4 separate regions of the Homo sapiens genome follow, and regions 2, 3 and 4 are each linked to region 1. The links come from fine-mapping of genetic effects on gene expression. A gene starts in region 1. Each other region holds a variant in brackets. All regions are shown on one strand. Distances are between the middles of the regions.

What was found. PIP is the estimated chance that this variant, and not a neighbour inherited with it, causes the effect.
Region 2: its variant is fine-mapped to the expression of MMP2-AS1 in whole blood (INTERVAL, PIP above 0.99). The same link has a PIP of 0.9 or more in atrial appendage.
Region 3: its variant is fine-mapped to the expression of MMP2-AS1 in left ventricle (GTEx, PIP 0.92).
Region 4: its variant is fine-mapped to the expression of MMP2-AS1 in whole blood (INTERVAL, PIP above 0.99).

The regions. Positions count from the first base shown.
Region 1 is chr16:55,460,715-55,464,714 of GRCh38, reverse strand. MMP2-AS1 (MMP2 antisense RNA 1) reads left to right here and starts at 2,418. Exons shown (of 7, transcript NR_147198.1): 1 at 2,418-2,540.
Region 2 is chr16:55,423,544-55,431,870 of GRCh38, reverse strand. It overlaps MMP2-AS1 (MMP2 antisense RNA 1), which reads left to right. Exons shown (of 7, transcript NR_147198.1): 5 at 2,391-2,510; 6 at 4,287-4,370; 7 at 4,901-5,074. Among named protein-coding and RNA genes, the nearest start is that of MMP2-AS1, 35 kb to the left of the region's middle. The variant T/C (reference allele first, on the strand shown) is at 4,024.
Region 3 is chr16:55,416,280-55,420,279 of GRCh38, reverse strand. No RefSeq gene overlaps it. Among named protein-coding and RNA genes, the nearest start is that of MMP2-AS1, 44 kb to the left of the region's middle. The variant T/C (reference allele first, on the strand shown) is at 2,004.
Region 4 is chr16:55,438,701-55,442,700 of GRCh38, reverse strand. All of the region lies in intron 4 of MMP2-AS1 (MMP2 antisense RNA 1), which reads left to right. Among named protein-coding and RNA genes, the nearest start is that of MMP2-AS1, 22 kb to the left of the region's middle. The variant G/A (reference allele first, on the strand shown) is at 2,289.

The DNA.
Region 1 (4,000 bases):
TTGCGAGCAAGAGCTCTGCAAAAGTGAGATGGTGTCACTGGGGTGGGACTTGTTGGCCCCTGGGTCATACGATGCTCTTGTTTGTCTGTCTGTCGATTACTGTAGCTATCTGGCTTGCCCATTCTTCATCCTGGTTGGGTCGAGGGTGGGGCTGGGCAGTGACCTGTCAATCAGAAATAAGGACATGGAAGTCTTCCAATCATAATAGCTTGCACTTGTTGACAGTGTTACAATATTGTTAGGCCCTGTTCTAAGTACTTTACATGTATTAGTTCATGTGATCCTTGCCACAGCCCCTGAGAATGCATTATTATTATGGTCATCTCTTTATGCATGAGGATACCAAGGCACAGAGAAGTTAAGAAACTCACTCAAGGTTACACAGAGAGTGAGTGTTGACCCAGGCAATCTGCTCTGGTGCCCACACTCTTAGGCTGGTGCCATCCAGTGCCCCCGGAGCAAGCAAGATTTGGCTTCTGCACCCTCAATGACATCAGTATTTTCTCTGGGCATCCTCGGCCAAAGCACCGTCCCTCTGGGGCTCTCTGTCTCTATATGTTTATTTGCCTGGTAAATGCTTATTAAGCCCTGTGCTGAGTGCTGGATATATAGCAGCAATTAACCGCAGTCATTGCTCTTGTGGCGTTTGCATTCCAGTGGGGAGACAGGCAATACAGAGCAAACAGACTCATACACAAGGTAATTTTAGATGGCTAGGAGACCTGGGAGGGATGAGGTCAAGATTATCTGATGAGGGCAACTTGAGAATGGGTCGTCAGGGAGGGCCTCTTGGAGGCCCTTGTTAGGTGTGAGTCCTGAAGGAGGAAAATGAAGCAGTCACATGCAGAACAAGGGGAAGAGTGTTCCAGGTAGAGCAGATGGCAAGTGCAAAGGCCCTGGGGTGGGAACAAGCTTTTTTGTATTTGAAGAACAGAAGAAGGCCACTGTGGCTGGAGCAGAGCGACAGGCACAATGAGCTTTTGTGGGTTTGGTTGGCGAGCATGTGTCCCCATCTCCTTGGGAGTTGTCCCTCCTCCCCACTGAGGACAGTGTTTCTGGGAAGGTGGATTGGGTTACTGTCCTGCCCTCTTCAGAAGCCAAGACAGTTCTAAGCCTTCCTCCTACTACCCTGCCAGGGTGGGGCTGTAATCTAGGCTGAGCCAATGGGACACTCATATGGTTTTTTTTTTTTTTTTTTTTTTTTGAGACAGAGTTTCACTCTTGTCACCCAGGCTGGAGTGCAATGGCATGACCTCGACTCACTGCAACCTCTGCCTCCTGGGTTGAAGCAATTAGCTTGCCTCAGCCTCCTGAGTAGCTGGGATTACAGATGCCCACCACCAGGCTTGGCAAATTTTTATATTTTTGGTAGAGACAGGGTTTCACCATGTTGGCCAGGCTGGTCTCGAACTCCTGACCTCAGGTGATCCACCTGAAAGTGCTGGGATGACAGACGTGAGCCACCGTGCCCGGCCCACTCATATGACCTCGCGTGACATAGATACAGATGGAACAATGGCAGCCCAGGCACAGCAACTGCGGGACCCTGAGGCCTGGTGTTCCCACCTTGATGTCTGCTCCAGTTGCCTGGCTCCCTTATCCTATTCTAACAAATCCCCCTTCGCTTATGTTGCCAGAGTTTACTTCTGTGGCCTACACCCAAATGACCCTACTGATGCAGTGGAGGAATGAAGGCAGATGAAGTTGGGCCCAGATGCGCTAGGCCTGGTTGGCCAAGCCAAGGAATTGGGTTGTGTTCCAAGGAAAATGAGGTCCCTGGGGATTTTTCTGGCACTGCCCTTCTGAGATGCTGTGATTCTGTGTGGGTGGCTTCCCACCTATGGGCATGACCTTAATCCACCAGCCCCTGTCCAGAAGCTCTCCCCTGCCCACCCAGGCCCAGGTCCCCACCACACTCTACCGCTAATGCACAATTGCCCTCCGCAGGCACCCAGGCAAGGTGAGCTTGGGATTACTTGTGTATTTCCCATGCACCCCCAATAAGGTCTCTCTATGGCTCAGATAAACATCTCTAAGATTTTATCCCTACCATACACTCCACCAAATGAAGAGTAAAACGAGAAGGGAGGAGAAATAGACAATCAGAACGTTCATCTTATATGTTGTGGAGCCCAGGAAGGGGACTGAGGAGGGGTCAGGGAGCCAAGGTTCAGCCAGTGCCCCAAGTGCCTCCTGCCCTTGAATTCCGAAGCATCAGGAATCAGTCACGGTAACAACAGCCAGCTGGTGACCCCAATCCCTCTGCACAGCAACAAGCCTTGGCTCTTGTTTTTCTAAGAATCCAGTCAATCCTCTTTCCTGTAAGTTGCAACCCAGTCCTCCCCCCAGGCCGGGCTGAGGACACAGCTTGTCTTCCCGATGGTGTCACCTAGAACTCTGGTTCCCCTGCTCCCTTTCTCTTCAAATAGGAAAATTGGCACAGCTTGACTTTCTTCCACTGCCCTCCCAGCCACAGCTTAGACACCTACAAACTCCCACCGCAGGCTGGAGTGCCCTGGAGCCCTAACTGTGATACCCAGGTCAGTTTCCAAATCTGTACCTTTCTGCGTCTCCTGTTCCAACTCTCAGTGAACTCAGCTGGTTCCTGCCCTTCCTCCCCAATGACCAGCCCTGAGGAATTGACAGCTAGGCCACAGCCGCCTCTTCCTCCAGCTTGACCCTAATTGGAATAAGTACCTCTATCATGGAATCCCAGAGGGACTTACGGTGGGGTTGTAGGCAGTGAGCCATGATTGCACTACTGCTCTCCAGCCTGGGCAACAGAGTGAGACCTTCCAAGAGAGAAAGAGAGAAAGAGGGAAAGAGAGAGAGAGAGAACAGAAACAGGAAAAGAAAGAAAGAAAGAAAGAAAGAAAGAAAGAAAGAAAGAAAGAAAGAAAGAAACCATTTAACATTTAAAGTTTACATTTAACAAGGGCTTACAATATGCCAGGTGTTTTACAAGTATTCATTAATTGATTCAAAAGACATTTATTGAGGGGTGTAAAATGATTATCTCTATTTTATAGATGAAGAAACTGAGGCACACAGAGGTGAAATAGCTTGCACAAATGTTGCTTAGCTGGTAAGTAGATTAGTCATGGCAAAGCTAAGCTAGGCAGCCTGCCTTCTTTTTTTTTTTTTTTTTTTCCGTGATGGAGTCTTGCTTTGTCATCCAGTCTGGAGTGCAGTGGCGTGATCTCGGCTCACTGCAACCTCCACCTCCCAGGTTCAAGCGATTCTCCTGCCTCAGTCTCCCAAGTAACTGGGATTACAGGCATGCGCATTTTTTTTTTTTTTGTATTTTTAGCAGAGACAGGGTTTTGCCATGTTGGCCAGGCTGGTCTCAAACTCCTGACCTTGTGATCCACCCACCTCAGCCTCCCAAAGTGCTGGGATTACAGGTGTGAGCCACCATGCCCAGCCCTTATAGTCTTAATAACTGAAAGACAACAGCTTCTAGAAGGATTTTGTAGCTCTCAGCATTGCCTGCCATGTCTGCACTGGGCAAGGCCTTTCCCGGGCAATTTCCTTTCCCATGACAGAAAATGGGTGGTGACCACTCTATCCTGATGTTGTGTGGTCAGCTATCTGGCTGTGGGTGCAAAAAGGATGCACTGAGACCAGGTTTTGAAGGCATTTACAGACACATGGAGCTCTTGGAAGGCTCCTCAGCTTGTCCTCTGGAGTGGTTCTCAGAGGTGGATGATGCCGCAGAAGCAGAAATGCTGCAGGTTCTCGCTTGGAACCTTCCATCCAGTCCAGGCCTGGAGGAGCAGCCATCCAGGCAGGAATTGCAGGAAAGGCTACAATCCGTAGAGAGATCTGAAAATGAGTCTATCTTAGTGAGGCAGCAGTTGGGAGCAAGAAACAGAAGCCCCCTTAGACTAACTAAGGAGAAGGGAGTCGGAGTATGATTACAAGAACCCTAGGAGGCCAGCGGCGGGGCTTGAAAATCACGGGCTCAGGCTGCACTCAGCTCTTTCTCCCTGCGGTCTCT
Region 2 (8,327 bases), 35 kb after region 1:
TGTTGTTATGTAATACCATGCTTGCACTGTTGCTTTTTTCTTATATAGAGGACCACAGTTGTATGGCTGTGGCTTTAACAGACATGGAAGCAAAATGAACCTAGAATTAGACTCATGTTTGGAGAAGAATGAGAAGGAACACATTTTTTGGTGGAAGTGACAATTATTCCTATGTGCTATCTTTAAGGTACAAAGGACTCCTTACTTCACTCATTTTCACATGCACTCTCTTTGCTGTAACTCCTGTGACCAAGTCCCCAGGCATTGAGACTCATCCCATAGAGAAGCAGTAGGGCACAGGGGTTAGGAGCATGGCCCTTCTGGGTTTTCTTTGGCTAAGTTAGCTTGGGTAAAGTTAGCAAGTTTTGTTGGGCTGGGGTTAAGCTCCTTAACTTCTCTTTCCTTCAGTGTCCTCATCTTCAAAAGGGGGTGATGATGATAATAACACCTATCTTGTAGGTGATTGTGAAGATGGAATGAAACAAGAAATGTAAAGAGTGAATGAAGCCGGGCACAGTGGCTCATGCCTATAATCCCAGCACTTTGGGAGGCTGAGGCAGGTGGATCACTTGAGGTCAGGAGTTTGAGACCAGCCTGGCCAACATGGCGAAACCCCATCTCTATTAAAAATACAAAAATTAGCCAGGCGTGGTGGTGCGCACCTGTAATCCCAGCTATTGGAAGGCTGAGACATGAGCATCACTTGAACCTGGGAGGCGGAGGTTGCATTGAGCCGAGATCTGGCCACTGTTCTCCAGCATGGGAGACAGAACGAGACTTCATTTAAAAAAAAAAAAGTGAATGATATTACCTGACACCTGGTAAGGAGGCAGAGGACAGGAGTATTTTTGTCATTATGGTGAGTGACAACATACCAACTCACTCATTAGTTAATTTATTTGGTAAGTGAAGATCGACTTAGTGACTAAGAAGGTTGATGCCTTTGAAAAGTGCCAAATCAAAAAATTTGAAGGTTTCTTGGTCCATGTCAGTGGTTCTCAATCCTGGAAGTGGATGGGAATAATCTTTGTTGCTCTCCCCAGATACTAGTCTGGGGACCCACCAAAGAGCAATTACACCAGACCCTCCAGGGACAGGATTTGTGGCCCCCAGAATGATGACAACTATGCCAGGTTACGGTCAGGATGGGAAACTCGTCTCAAGTCAGGTCAAGGTCATGCGCAGTCCTGAGACCAGGTGCCTCCTTACATTACACACCCTCAGTGCCTCATTTACCTGCCCTGGTCCCTGTCTTGCCTCAAACCACTAAAACAGAAACTCCATGAGGGCAGAGACTTTTTCCCTATTTTTCTTTCACTACTATCCCAGTGCCTGGAACAGCAGTGCACATATAATATGCTCTTGATAAATACTTATTGAGAGAATGAATAAATGGATACATGAATAGGCCCATCTTCCAAAGGTTCGGATTGCAGTCACCTCTTTGCTAGAGACTGCTGGATTTGCTCTACATAAACCAGAAGAGTGGAGTCCTAGACTTCAGATGCTCAGTGTTTCCAGAAGAGACCTTCAAGGTCAGCTGGGACAATTTCTTTTTTTTTTTTTCCAAACCATCTCTCATCATCATGATATTTTCCTTGTCTGCATCCCACTTGAGCTGTTATTTCCTTAATGGTGGCTTTACATCAATTCGTGCTTACTTAGAAACATCTGTCTGACAAAGAAACCCTAAAAAGATCAGTTCTGCCAAGGAAAAACTATCACTTGCCATACATAGAAAGGCAACTGTGAAATTAAGTACAAAGGAAATAAATCAAGTTATGAAATGGAGTTGGATGCTGATGCCTGCTGAGGATGTGAGCCTGGGCCTTCCCCTCTTATCATTATGAAGAGAGGGTTGAAAACATTGCAGAGGTGTTAAAGAGATGTTAGCATTGGATTGAGACTTTCTCTTAGAGGGAGTCAGAGGCTAGAAAGAGTCCAGAAGTGATACCTTTCTCTCTCTGAGTTAGTACTGTTTAATACCATGTCTTTGCATGTCACCCAAACCCATCCATGTGCTGCCCAACCATCAGTGGTATTCATCCCACTGGAGAAATCCATAGTTAGTCCCAGCTCCTTATTTTGTAAGACTTAGGTCCAAAGAGGCCCAAGTTCATATTCATTTATTCATTCATGCATTTGTTTGACATATATCAAACACCTCCTATATGCCTGGCACTGTGAACTAGACAGGCTAAGTCCCAGCTATTTTGGAGCTACCAACCCAGGGTCAGAGGAGGGGCTATACCTTTGGTCCCAGACCCCTAGTGCAGTGCTCCTTCTCTGCCCCTTCTCAGAAGGTGTTTTTGTAATCCCCATCTACACCCTACCCTCATGGGTGACTTGGGCACTTAGTGTTGCATTAACATCGTTTCCTTTTAATAAAGCAGCTACATTTTCACCCCATCCCGGGCTCCATGTTCCTGCTGCACACACATCAAGAATGCTGCTAATTTCAGCGTCTGCCTTCCAGACCCAGACGTCAAAACAACTACCTTTCATCTCAGGTTTGTAACACAGAAAACCTTCAATATTGGGAACAGATAACCTCGAAGGTGGGTTCATATCTCTCAGCACGATTGCTGTAACTTAACTCTGCTGCACCCGATCAAGGCTTTCTCTCTGCCTCATAGGTATTTTAATACAAATGTTCCTTTCATTTGGCTGATTGAAGGTCTCCAACCTGCAATAAATGAAACATCTGATCCCCTTGAATCCAAATAACTTTTTCTTTGATTTTCTTTTACTTCTATTTCTTCGTCCTTTGTTCTACAGCCCGAGTCAAATTTCCCTTTAGAAATTGAAAGAATGTGTGTGGGTTTTTCCTGCTTTTTTTTTTTTTTTAACCAAGCTCTAGTGCAACCGCTGGTTCATGGACTAGAATATTAAGATCCAATTCAATGGCAGACTGTCTCCAGCAATGTTGTATTTTTATTTTTTTTTGCCGTCATCCCCCCCACCCACTTGTGAGCAATGGTTGTACAAATTAGCCTCTGTGTACTAGTCACCGAAGCTGGCTTCCCAATTAACCCCAGGCTTGAGAGAAAATAAGACTAAAGATTCTTCCCCTCCTGAAAGAACTAAGTTATCCATGCACAAAAGCCTACATGTTGGCACCTGGCTATGGAGTTGGGCATTTAATTGCCTTTGTAATGACTCAGTCCATCTGCATGGTATTGGGTCCCCAGTTTCAGGTAATGGGCCAGAGGGGTCTTATTAGTCTCTGGAATGACCAGGCCATGTGTATTCATCACTTCGAAAGGCAAGCAGGGTCTGTGAGAAGCTGGTGAAGCTCTTTGTGTGTTCACATCTCTGATTGTGCCCTGTGTCCACACTTAGCCAGGACACCTACCCACTTAGTGGTCTTGGCTTTGTTTCTAGGGTGAGGGCTTGAGCTGTGGGTAACAGTGCTGATTATTACATGCTAGTAAGATTGTCTCCCTCTTTGAAGTGGTAGAAAGGTTTGTCCCTTCAGGGTGATTGGGTGAATATCAGAAAGCAACCACAGGAACATTTTGTTGTACTTTGCTAAGGTCTAAATATTTGTCTCCTCCCACCAAAAATTAGTGGTTGAAACCTCATCCCCAGTGTGATGAAATGAGGAGGTGAGGCCTTTGGGAGGTGACGAGGTCTTGAAGGCAGAGCCTTTATGGATGGGATTAGTACCCATATAAAAGAGACCTCAGGGAGCTTGTTCACCCCTTCTGTCATGTTGAGTACTCAGCAAGAAGATGCCATCTATGAGGAATGGACCCCCACCAGACACCCAATCTGCCAGTAACTTGATCTTGGACTTCCCAGCCTCCAGAACTGTGAGGAATCAGTTTCTGCTATTTATGAGTTACCCAGTCTATGGCATTTTGCTATGGCAGCCCAAATAGACTGAGACATACTCCTTAACCTTTGACCCACTTCTGTTTAGGCCCAGCCAGCCTTCCTGAGCCTGTGCATAGTCTTCCTGGCTCAAGGAACTCTCTCTACCGAGGTGTGATCTCCTAACTCCTGGCACTCATTTACCTA[T/C]CCATGGTTGGTAGTCAGCCTCCAAGATGCCTGCAGTCATCCCTGCCTCCTGGGATTCATATCCTCCTCCACATTGTGCCAGGATTGGGCTCTGTGGCCAAAAAGAAAACAGCAGATGAGAGGACGTGTCTCTTCTCAGAAGGGTTAGAAAAGACTGTGGCTTCCATTTTAGATGACTTTCTCTCTCTCTCTCTCTCTCTCTCTCTCTCTCTCTCTCTCTCTCCTCTTTTCCTTCTTCTCTTCCTTGGATCTCTTGCTCTGAGGAAAGCAAACTACTATGTTGTGAGCAGCCCAATGGAGAGGCCCACAAGACAACGAACTGAAGCCTCCAGCAACAACCCTGTGAGGTCAGTTTGGAAGTGGATTTTCTAGCCCCAATTGAGCTTAAGATGACTTCAGCTTCAGCAGACAGCTTGACTGCAGCCTTTCTAGAGAGCAAGCACCACCCAGCTCTGCTGCTTCTAGACCCCTGACCTCAGAAATTGCACGAGATAACATGTTTGCTGTTTCAGGCTGCCAAATTTAGGGGTAAGCTGTTATGTAGCAATAAATACCAGCACACCATGTGAGCTCGTCTCTCGAGGGACTCTCTGAGGCTCCTGATGTTCCTGGTTGGCTCCCTCAATCTATGTGCTTGTTGTCCCTTAATATGTATTTTCAGTTCTTCCTTCATAAGAAACACCCTTAGCTTTTAAGTGGATCCTTGGCTGCCTGGAATAAACACTACATTGCCCCAGGTTTTTTGGCAGTTAAATGTGATCATGTGACTTAACCGTATTCTAGTCAATGGGCATATGTGGAAGTGGTGTGTGCAACTTCTGGAGAGCACCCTTACTAGGCGGATGCACCTTTCTTTCCACTTTCCTCCTTCCTGCAGGCTGGAACTGCCCATAAAGGCTGGCACCCCAGCAGCCACCTTGAGAAATGCAGTGATGATGCTGAGTGGCAAGGCAGAAGGCACAGGGTCCCTGCACCTGAGGATTGCTGCTCCAAACCTGGGCCACCAGCCTGAAGATCCCGCCAGGGAGAAATAAAGCTCTGTTTTGCTGAAGCCACTGCTATTTTGGGGGTCTCATCTCTTCCAGCTGATTCTAACCTGAAATTGAACCTTAATTCAATCTGGCTGATCCATGAACAACCATCACGCCTTGTGCTCTGTGTCAGATAGGTTTCTTAAGGGAGAATGTCACTTACTGACAGTGATTTGTCAACACCAAAGAGGAAAAAATATCAGAGAAAGGTAAGAGGGAGAACAATAGAGAGAGAAAGAGAGACAGAGACAGAGGGGGAGAGAGAGAGAGAGAGAGAGAGAGAGAGAGAGAGAGAGAGCAGACTTGGTTTAATTTCCTCTTTTCCCTTATTACTTTCTGACATTTTCTGACCTTAATACCTTTGAAACTTAGCACTTCCCTCAGAAGCCTCCACTGTAAACAAAGCCCCAAGATTTCCCTATAATTTTCCCCTCCCCATTGGCCCATCAGTCCCCATGGGCTTCTGCTTACCAGGATGCCCAACTATTCCCCTGCAAACATCCCCCTGCCCAGTGGGCCCTAACACTCACTAGTAGCATTGCCTTTCCCCCTCTGTTCTGCCCTCCTCCAGAGGCTCCCCATTCTCTGGATCTAATGTTGTCCCAGAAGTTTACCCCTCCCTGTCCCACCCAGGCGACCTCAAATTCTCCTAGTGGCTTCCAATGACCCAGTTGTGCCCAGAAGCTTCTCCCTAACAGCTTAGGCTGTCACAGCCTTCCAGAGGCCTCACCCATCTTAGTAGGGTCTATTGCTCCTGTTCCTTAAGCCCTAGCAGTCCCTCCACCCAGTAGGCCCTGAAACTGTAATGCAGTCCTCTCAGGCTGAGGACCTGCTCTGTGCAAAGGCCTGAGAGGGAGGTGGAGAGAAGCCAGGCAGAGGCCAGATATATTAGCAGTTTTCCTAGAACAGTTGCTAAAATAGAGCAGACAGGGGCTATGGGAGTTGATCAATAGATATTCATTGAACATCTACTTTGTGCTGCGAATGATTTCAGTCATGAGGGACATAGCAGACCATAAAACAGAACAGGGGAAGCCTTCTTTAGAAGTGGTCCTGGTATATTTCTGTCAATTGACATATATTCACAAATTCACGCATCCACTTAATACGTATTTATTGAGCTCCTTCTGTATACGAGGCACTGTTCTTGTTGCTGAAAATACAAAACTGAACAAAACAGAAAAGCTCCTGCCCTTGGGAGCTTATGTTCTAGTAAGGAAATGAAATAAACAACAAACAGCGAGTGCCTTCAGTCTTATGTTCCCAGAAGAAGATGCTGAGACAAGGGTTGAAGTGCAGGTAATTTATTAAGAAAGAGCTCCCAGGAGATATCCATAAGGGCATAGGGAAACAGGGCAAGAGAGGGGGAAGAAGCCCAGCAAAGGTGCAGCTTCCCAAAGTCCCAACCTCTGCCTGATCCTGTGGAGAGCTCTGGGGTATAAATTACATCTCAGGGTCTGTCTGTCTTTGAAGCAGGGGTGTCAGGCTTTTATACTCCCACATCCATTGGCTACAGGCTGGAGGGGTGAGGGGGAGTAAATTTTGGGTACTTTTTCTCCTCTCTGCATGCCATGGGGACAAAGCAGCTGCAGAGGTTCATGGGCCAGCACAGGAAGGAAGTTCCAGGTGTGAACCTTTTAGAAGTAAAATACGTAGGGCCAGGTGTGGTGGCTCACGGCTGTAACCCAGCATTTTGGGAGGCCGAGGGTGGTGGATCACCTGAGGTCAGGAATTCAAGACCAGCCTGGCCAACATAGTGAAACTCCATCTCTACTAAAAATATAAAAATTAACCAGGTGTTGTGGTGCATGCCTATAATCCCAGCTACTTGGGAGGCTGAGGCAGGAGAATAACTTGAACCCGGAAGGCAGAGGTTGTAGCGAACTGAGATCATTCCACTGCACTCCAGCCTGGGCAACAAGAGAGAAACTCTGTCCCAAAAAAGGAGAAGGAGAAGGAGAAAGAGAAGGAGGAGTAGGGGAAAATGTGTGTAGAGGCTGGGGGTGAGCACACAGAATAAGTAAAAGGGACCTGAGGGATGCATCCATGCAATAGATTATCATAATATGATGACAGGTGTGAGAAGCATTGAGGATTTCACCACTCCTGACCCCTCCTCCATGCACAGGGGCATCCGGAGGATCTCCATGTCTCTATTCCCCTTACCTTGCTCTGCCCCAAGGGAGGTGACTTGGCTGATTGATAAGGATTCTAGGAGGAATAAACTGAATGTGAGCAGCTCTGTCCTGTCCTCATTCCTTGTCTTATTTTGGTCTCCTTAAAGACCTAGGGTACAGAAGGAAGGGCAGTGACTGGGGGATTCCTTAGGAAACCAGCATTCTGAAAAATAATGACGTGGGCAAGAGAGTGGGAGTGGCTGGTGGTCTTCCCCTTGGGGGAACTGAGAAAGCTGCAGTGAGAAAGGGGCCATGGGGATGTCAGGGAGGCTCAGGCCAGGTAGGGGAGCAGCCCCTGCACAGGCCTCAGGGTGGGGGTGTGCTTGGCACTTTTGAAGATTAGCCAGCGCAGGTGGAGCAGGGTAAACAAGGAAGAGTGTGATAGAAGATGGCATCAGAGAATGAAGCAGGAGCTGAGTTGGCAGGACCTGCAGGCCAAGCCCAGGACTGCGGGTTGGTGCCAACCAAGAGGGGAGCAAGGGCAGCTTTCAAACAGGCAATAACACAATCATGGATAAAAGGATCCTTTTGACTTCTGAGTACAGAAGGATAATAGGGGAAAACGGAGGAAGGCAGGGAGACCAGTTAGGGTGCTCCAGCAATAGTCCAGGCGAGAACTGATGGGCACTTACACCAGATTCTTCTGCAATTAGTGGTGAAAAGTGGTCAGATATGGAATCTATTTTGCAAGCAGAGCCCACAGGTTTTGCCAATGGAGTGACTGTGTGGTAGGGGAGGGAGTGGTGGCAATCAGGGATTCTACAGCAGCCACTGTTGTGCCACATCCATAGGTCCTCTCTTCACCATGTTAGAGGCCCCGCTTCTAATGGCCAGCCTGAGGTCCATTTTTATTTTATTTTATTTTATTTATTTTATTTATTAATTTTATTGCCTAAGGGCTTCCTCTGACCACTGGAGCCCACTCTGCCCGTGTGTCCAAAGCAGGCCAGAGGATCCCTCAGGGGCAGCCTCAACCGATGACTGATGGGAGATGGTGTATATGCAGCCCAGTTCCGTCACCCCACAGGGGAGGGACGTAACTCTGAGGCTTGTGCTCTGCCCTGGCTCCTAAAGTCCCCAGCAGGATGAAGCTCCA
Region 3 (4,000 bases), 44 kb after region 1:
AGGCTCAAGATTCATTTATTAATTCACCTGTCCACTGACATATATTGAGGGTTTACTATGCCAGGAACTGTAATGAGGATTGAGGATGCAGCAGAGTATAAAACAAGCAAAATTCTTGCATTTAAGGAGCTCATATTCTCATGGTGGTGGAGGGAGATAGATGATACACATATAAATAAGGTAATATGCCCAAGGTGATAAGGACTATCAGGAAAAATAAATCGGGTAGGGGTTTTGAAAATGATGGATTTATGTAGGGAGATCAGAGAAGACCTCACTGGGAAGAATGATATGAACAGAGTCCTGAAGGAGGGGAGAGAGTCAGTCATGTGGATGGATATTTGGAAGAAGAGAATTCCTGGCACCAGAAGCAGCAAGTGCAAGGGCCCTGAGGCTGGAACATATTTGGCCTGCTGCAGAAGAGCGAGAACACCAGTGAAGCCAGAGTCAAGTGTGCTAGAGAGAGAAGTCGATCAGACGCCAGAGAAAGGGGGACTTGGGGAAGGGGTGTATACCATGTCGGGCCTTTCAGGTCATTGTAAAGTCTTCCTGTACAAGAAAGCTGGGAAGGTGGACAGATTCTTCACTCATTTCCATTGCAGTCATTTGTTCTTTTATTCAACTTATATTCATTGCAGCAGCCACTCTGTGCCAGACAGTGTTCTCATCCCTGTGCCATAGACATGCACAGAGATGAGAATCACCTTTGCTCTCAAAGAGCTCTAAATCAAGTAGGATTAGTTAGCCGTTAATCAAATAAACACATAAAAATAAGACCACTCCTTGGAAGGATGATGGGGGGATGATAGGGAGAACTGATGTGGTCTGGCATTCTGGGACTTTGCCCTGAGGAAGGGACGGTGGAGTGCAGGTCTGGGTGTTAGGCAGGTGGGAGCTCAGCCCCTTCAAGGAGCTCTGCAAAGGCCAGTGTGGTGAGAAGGTGGAGAGCGAGGCCAAGCCTGGTGGGAGCATGAGGGCTGGAGTGGTGGGCAATGAATGGCTGGATCTCACAATGAATGGCTGGATCTTACAACGAATGCCTTGTGGGCTGGGGCCAAGACCATCTTTTCCTTCTCCTAAGAGCAAGGAAATCTCAGAAGTGAGTAGAGAATGGCATAATCACATTTGCTATTGGAAGAAATCACTCTGGCTGCCCTCATGAAGGGGGAATCGGAGTGAATTTGAGGTCACCAGTGAAGAAGTGATTACAGTTACCAAGTTGAAGAATTACTTTGAATTACAAGTTGAAGAGTTACTTTGATAAGAGTTGAAACAAGGAGGCTGAAGAGAAGTAGATAAACCCTAGAATATTTTGCAGGTAGGCTTGGAGAACTTGGTAGCAGATTAGCCATGGGGATTAAGGAAGAAGGAGCACAAAAAAGCCTCTGAAGTTTGGGATTTGTGTCCCCAGAAGAAGGGTGACCAGGATATTGGCAGGAGGGTTGAAGCCTTGACAGTTCCCATTGCTGTGATCTGCCAGAACAGGGCTCCTGGAAGGTAAGGACCATGGCTAGTTCCCTGTCCTGCATCTCGCCCTGCAACTGGTTCACACAGCAGGCGCTAGATCCCTGCAGAGGTGAGGGTTCCTTCAAGCCAGTCCTCCTCCAGAAAGTCAGGAGAGAACATGGAAAACAAGTGGAATTGGTGGAAGCAGCATGAGATAAAAATTCTATTTGGAAATGGTGAGCATGAGGCTTAAATATCTGTGGGGTTTCTACAATGAGCTTTGCAAAAGTGGCTCGTGATTTTACTCATCAATTTCTCAAGGTGACTTTTGATTGCCATCGCCCTGGCCTGGTTCAACTCCTTCTTTCCCTGTGCCCTTCCCTTCCTCTCTCCTCCAGGATCCTCCCTCCATTCCCTTTTAGAGGTCACCTTGAAAAGGACCCTCGGAGCTCCTTTCTACTTCAAGGCCAGTGCACATGCTGCCCTGTTGGCTGTGAAACCTCTTCTCTCCAGCACACTGCACCTCCATAGCTCTTCTCTCAGTTAACTCCTTTTTG[T/C]CTTTGCCTGCCACTTGTCACCTGATCAGGTAGCTTCCCTGATCCCTTTAGTTGTGTCATTCATTCTCAGAGCATCCTGGCTTTTCCAGTGCGGCACTTTTCACAGCAGTCGTTAATTACTTATTCTTATCATTTTCTCTCCCTCTCAGTAGTTTATGATCTCTGGTGCCTAGGACCATGCTGGCATATAGGTGAATGCAATGAATGATTGTTTATGAATGGTTAGGGAATGAATGAATGGGCCTGGGTTGTGCAGTCTTAGGGTTGATGCAGCCACCAACCAACTTAAATCATCCAACGGTGTTTTAGAAAGAACACCTTTTGCTTTACATCTCCTAAGCATATCTGCATTTTATGAGACAAAATAAACCTTAGGCTAAAGGAATGCACCTCTTGTAATGGAGAAAATATTTTAAAGATATTAAATACTTGTGGTTTTCATTCTATAAATCATGTTCCCTACAGTCATTCCACCATTATTGCTCCAATGAAGGGTGAATGAAGGGTGAATGCCACCTTGAGAAGGAATATGATATGGGGTAGGAGAAGCCCAAGCCAGATGAGAAGAGGAGGTGGGAAGACACTTCCTGGCCTGGCAGCAGGGGAGAAGAAAATGAAAGACACAAATTTGTAGGGGAAGCAGGCAACGTGCCACAGGTGTTCTGACTGCCCACCTAGGGAACACATGCCAAGGCCACAGTCTCCATGTGAGCAAGAGCATCACCTGGAATATCCAGGTAGGGTAAACCTTGGGAGCAAAGTGGAGCAACCACTCTCCAGCAGGCTCCAGGGAGCAGTTAGAAGGCACAGTGTGGATGAGAGGTCTCCTCTCTCACTGTCATAAACACAAGGACTGCAAAGGACAATTTTAACTAGGAGGAGATGGTTCCAACTGAAGAAACTGAGTCATCTTTAATGAACAAGCTTAAAATATCCACTTCTGAACCCATCACCCAACACACACTGCCACTGGCAAGAGGCATGTGTAGATGGTAAGATCACTTACAGAAAATACAAGAGCTACGTTTCCTTTGTGTGTCTAAGTAGTAGCATGACTGAAATTGCAAGTTTTCCCCCGACACCCTCTAATGGTGAAAGCCTAGGGCTGGATTACTTACATGACACCTCAGGACATTTGCCTGTTGTCCCTATCCCAGCCACCAGATAGTACCCAGCATGCCTTCTCTCCCTTCTCCATATTGTCCTTTTCCTCCTCATCTTCTTCCTCTTTTGTAGTAGACATGTCCAGCACCGAATGACTACAAAAGTTCAATAACAAACATAAAATGAGGGTGATGGGGCTGACTTGGATAGCTTGCTATCTTCCAGCCCAGCTCTAGACTCTTTTATCTGAGATACTGGTGCATATGAAACATCAGCAACCAAGGGTATGTGTGTGTGTGTGTGTGTGTGTGCATGTGCATATGTGTGTGTGTTGGAGTGGGAGGCTGTCTGCCTTCATCCATGCTTCTTTGTTTCCACAGTGGGTTGTCTCAGTCTCACCTGTTCATACACAGACACGGGGGCCTCTGCACCTTTCAACCAGTCCCCCACAAAGGGTCTACACTCTTGGGTGCTTTAAATAAGCACGCTAACTCCATTGTTCTCTTGTGGTCACCCTTGCCCACAAATCCTACTGCTAAGTGAACACCCTATCGTTCCGTCCTGGATCATCCTCCAGCTCACTCCAATTACTTTCTACTCCTTCTAGGAGTTAAATATTCCTGTCATGACTTGACCTTTTTGGAAATGTCTGATGCTTGTATCATAAAACAATGGCAAGGCACTTTAATTGAATCTTTTTTTAAGTGCATACTGACATCTGATACAGAATAATAATGCTTAGCACTTGCAGAGAACTTTTCATCTTCAAAGCACTTTGCTACCATTAAAGGCCACATTTGCTGAAGATAGATTCACTTTCCTTTGTGTCACACTGAATCACATCAGACTGAATTTGGAGGGGACAAGGAGCAAGGGGCTTGCTTGGAGTGCTG
Region 4 (4,000 bases), 22 kb after region 1:
GGCAGCCGAAGGGTAGAGTGAAATACAATGGAATCCAGAAAAAAAAAAAGACAATGAAACTAATTAGACTCTGATGGGAAGATCCTTCCTCGTTTGGTGATCATCCATTGGTAATTAATAAGTCACAAATATTGATGTTTGAAGAAAAGTGCCAGAATTTTAACCCCTGTTTTTCCAGAAGTTTAAAAAAAATTTCTTTAGATTCTGATCTTCTAAACTAAATCAGTCAAATGATTGGATGTTGAATTTTACAGTCATGTGTTGGTGACGGATGGGGATGTGTTCTGAGAGGCTATTTCATCATTGTGCCAACCTCATACAGTGTACTTACACACACCTAGATGGTATAAGCTATATGGAATAGCCTTTTGCTCCTAGGCTACAAACCGGTATAGCATGTATCACACTGAATACTGTAGGTAATTGTAACACCGTGGTAAGCATTTACATATGTAAATATAGAAAAGGTCCAGTAAAATTATGGTATAAAAAGTAGAGAATGGTACACCTGTATAGGGCACTTACTGTGAATGGAGCTTGCAGCACTGGAATTTGTTCTGTGTGAGTCAGTGAGTGAGTGGTGAGTGAAGGTGAAGGCCCAGGACATTACTGTATACCACTAGAGACTTTATAAACACTGTAGACTTAGGCCATGCTAAATTTATAAAAAATAAAGTAATTGCACTACAGTATTACAATGGCTACCGTGTCACTAGGTGATATGAATTTTTCATCTCCGTTATAATCTTATGGGACCACTGTCATATATGCAGCCTGTCATTGACCGAAACACCATTACACAGCACAGGACAATATTGTGTTCTGGGGGAAACAGACTAGCCTATACCAGCAACTGGTTAGCTCTCAACACCTGTCCTCAAAATAATGTGCAGGTGGATCGAATTCAACTGTCAGCGGATAAAGATATATCTAATACAAGAGATGCTGGACTCCAGCAGTTAGCATTAACCCAGTGGTGGAACCAACTTGTATATATGAATGGATACAATCCCAGCTAGATTTTTGCCCCTGTATATTTTGAGGCTTTGTTGTATGATCCATGCTTTGTAGATCTGTGAAAAACATTTCCAGGCATCCAGTTGAAAAACCCTTGACCAACAGTATAAAAACGACTTTTAGCTTTGCCTAAGCATAAGGCAGCATCAAAGGGGTCTGGCTTCCTTTTGGGAAGTTCTTTTGAATGAAGTGATCAGTTAGTATTTATGCTTTTTGTCCTTCTGTATTATGCAACAGCACAAATGCACAACTGCCCCAGTGGGACAATCTAATGCATAGCCAGCCAGTCACACAGTTTTAAAGTTGGACGCATGTGTCTTTGGCACGTCCCAGGTCTCCTTTCAACTTCTTTCAGAATCTCTTTTTTACCACCCTCCAGCCCAGCGCTTGAGGTTCTCAGGATGACCCTGGGTCATTTCTAGCTTAAAGAGAGTGGGCTTTGAGAAATATCTTGATAAGTGTTAGTGCAATTTTTAAAGATGGCTAAAATGCTAATGGTGAAATTTCAGGCTTTGTGGCAGTTGGATGAAAGGAATGTTTTTGAGCAAAAGATCTTTCCAACGATCCCTCAAACCTACAATGCATAAAAGTGGACTTGTTTAGATAAGTCAGTAAATTATGCCTAATCTCAGTTTTCCTCCATGTAAAGAGGAAGAAATTAAACTAGAAGTAGAATGATCTTTAAGGTTTATTAAAGAGAGAGAGAGAGAGAGAGAGAATGGTTTGCCATGTGCAAAAAAAGGCAAGGCTCTTCCTTATAAGTAGCACAGGGATTCATTCATTCATTCATTCATTCTGTGTGTGTGTGTGTGTGAGAGAGAGATCTCTGGGCCAAACCCTATATCACAGTTCTTTCACATCATTTCACCTACCCCTTACAACAACCTTTGAGGTGGGTATTCCTAACAGGAGTGGTTGTCAATTTATTTAACTATCAATAAGCCACAGATACTTGCCAATCAGAAAGAACACTGAGTTAAACACTAGAACAGGGTCCTGGAGACCCCTGACTGTGCCAGGTATTTGTTGCTAGATGAGGAAAGAGGTGGGGAGGAGCCAGGGTGCCTGGCACAATGAAGGGGAGATTGGGAAGCTATTTGACAACTGGCCTGGGAAATGCTCTAATTTTTAAACTGCTGGTATGGATTTTGTACTATTGGATATGGCTGAACATCAGCCGTGACTTTCAATCTCCCCATTCTGCAAAGGACAAAGCTGAGGCCCTGGGAGGTCATGAAAGCTTCTCAAGATAAACCCATCAAAAAGCGACA[G/A]GCTTGAGTTGAAGGCTACTTTAAGTCTTTGAGACTCCAAAGTTGGTGTTCTTAACCATTATGCTGACTGTACACATGTCTCTAAGTTGACCTCAGTCTGTGCCAGGCTGGCCTGGCATTTCTCTACAAAGAACTGGAGGAAAGTGGATCGGAGGAAAGATCTGGTTTGAGTGGGAGTAGAGTTGGCCGATTTAGTAAGTAAAAATACAGGACACACAGTTAAGTTTGAATTTCAGATAAACAACAAATAATGCTTTTGTATATTTTTAGCTTATTGCACGGGATATATGTACACTGAAAATTATTCATTTTTAATCTGATGTTCAAATTTAACTGGACATCTTGCATTTTATCTGGCAACACTACGTGTGGAGGGAGGGTCACAGGGATGCTAAGACATTTCAAATACCAAGACACTTCAATCTGAAGAAACATTTTCTTTGCTAGGAACTCCCTTTTGCAAAGTCAATGATATCAGCTGTAGTAAGAACACTTCTAACCTTACCCTGAGTACCTCTTTGATTTTAAAGTCATAGAATGTCAAGGCAGAGGTCATTTAAGCCAATACCCTGCCTCACTGTCTTTCTGCCTCTTTCTGTCCTCTCTCTGCCCAAGAAGGCAGAACCCACAGCACCGGCGCTGTGGCTTGGCTTTGAAGCCAAGGAGCATAGCCCACGAGGCATGTCCTCATCTCCAAAGCACATGGAAACTATTCCTTTCCTGAAGGTCTTCATGGTTAGCCTGCTGCAAGTCTCATGGTTTTTCAGCTGCAGTTGTAATTTCTATAGCGCCTCCATCCCAGCTCAGCTGGTATTTATTAGAACACATTCTTTTTGAAAAGAAAACTGTTTCTTAATTAAAGGTTGGCAATCCATAGCCTGTTTGCAGATGAGAAAAATTAAGCAACTACTATGAACAGCGCAGTGTGTCTCCTCTGTTGGTTAGAACATTGCTGTCTAGACACGTGGAGTGTCTCCTGTGTTTTGGGCCGTCCCTGCATTTACATCTGAGTGCATTTTTTTTTTTTTTTGGTGTTGCACAACAAATACTAATGAACCATGAGACCAAATGGAAGAGATTTTGGAGTGAAACAAACTTGTCTTCTGTTTTAACCACTCCCTGTCACAGACTGCTTTTCAAACATAATACCTGGGCGGGGTGGGTGGGGGTTAATGAAAAATGTTTCGTGTCCAAAACCCAGCCTTACTGTCTATGCCAAAGAGTTGGTTTCTGGGGCCAAGTAGAAGCTGAGAGGAGCTGATCTTTGCCTCACCTCTGGACCAAGAATGAAATAAACTTATGAAGAATAAAAATATTCCTTTCATGGGGTGAAGATTCTTAACCTGGGTTCCATGAAATGGAAGACTTCTAAGAATTCCATGGAATTCTTAGCTTGAATGGGAAAAAAAAATGTATTTTTAAATTTTTGCTAACTTCTAACTGACAGTTAGCATTTCCTTCAATTCTGAATGTAGGCAACAACTAAAATTGTATCAGCACTACATGGGACTTTTGTGACTTCGTCATTAATAGATATCACAGATATTTTCATATCACATTATAGTTGCTACAGAGTATCTTGAAACAGACTCACTACTCTCTGGAAATTATAGTGATGAGTAGACCCACCTCTATATCTTATTATATCTTGGTTAATAAAAGCCCACATATTACTATATTAATTTAAATAATTATTTAGATAACTGTTATTT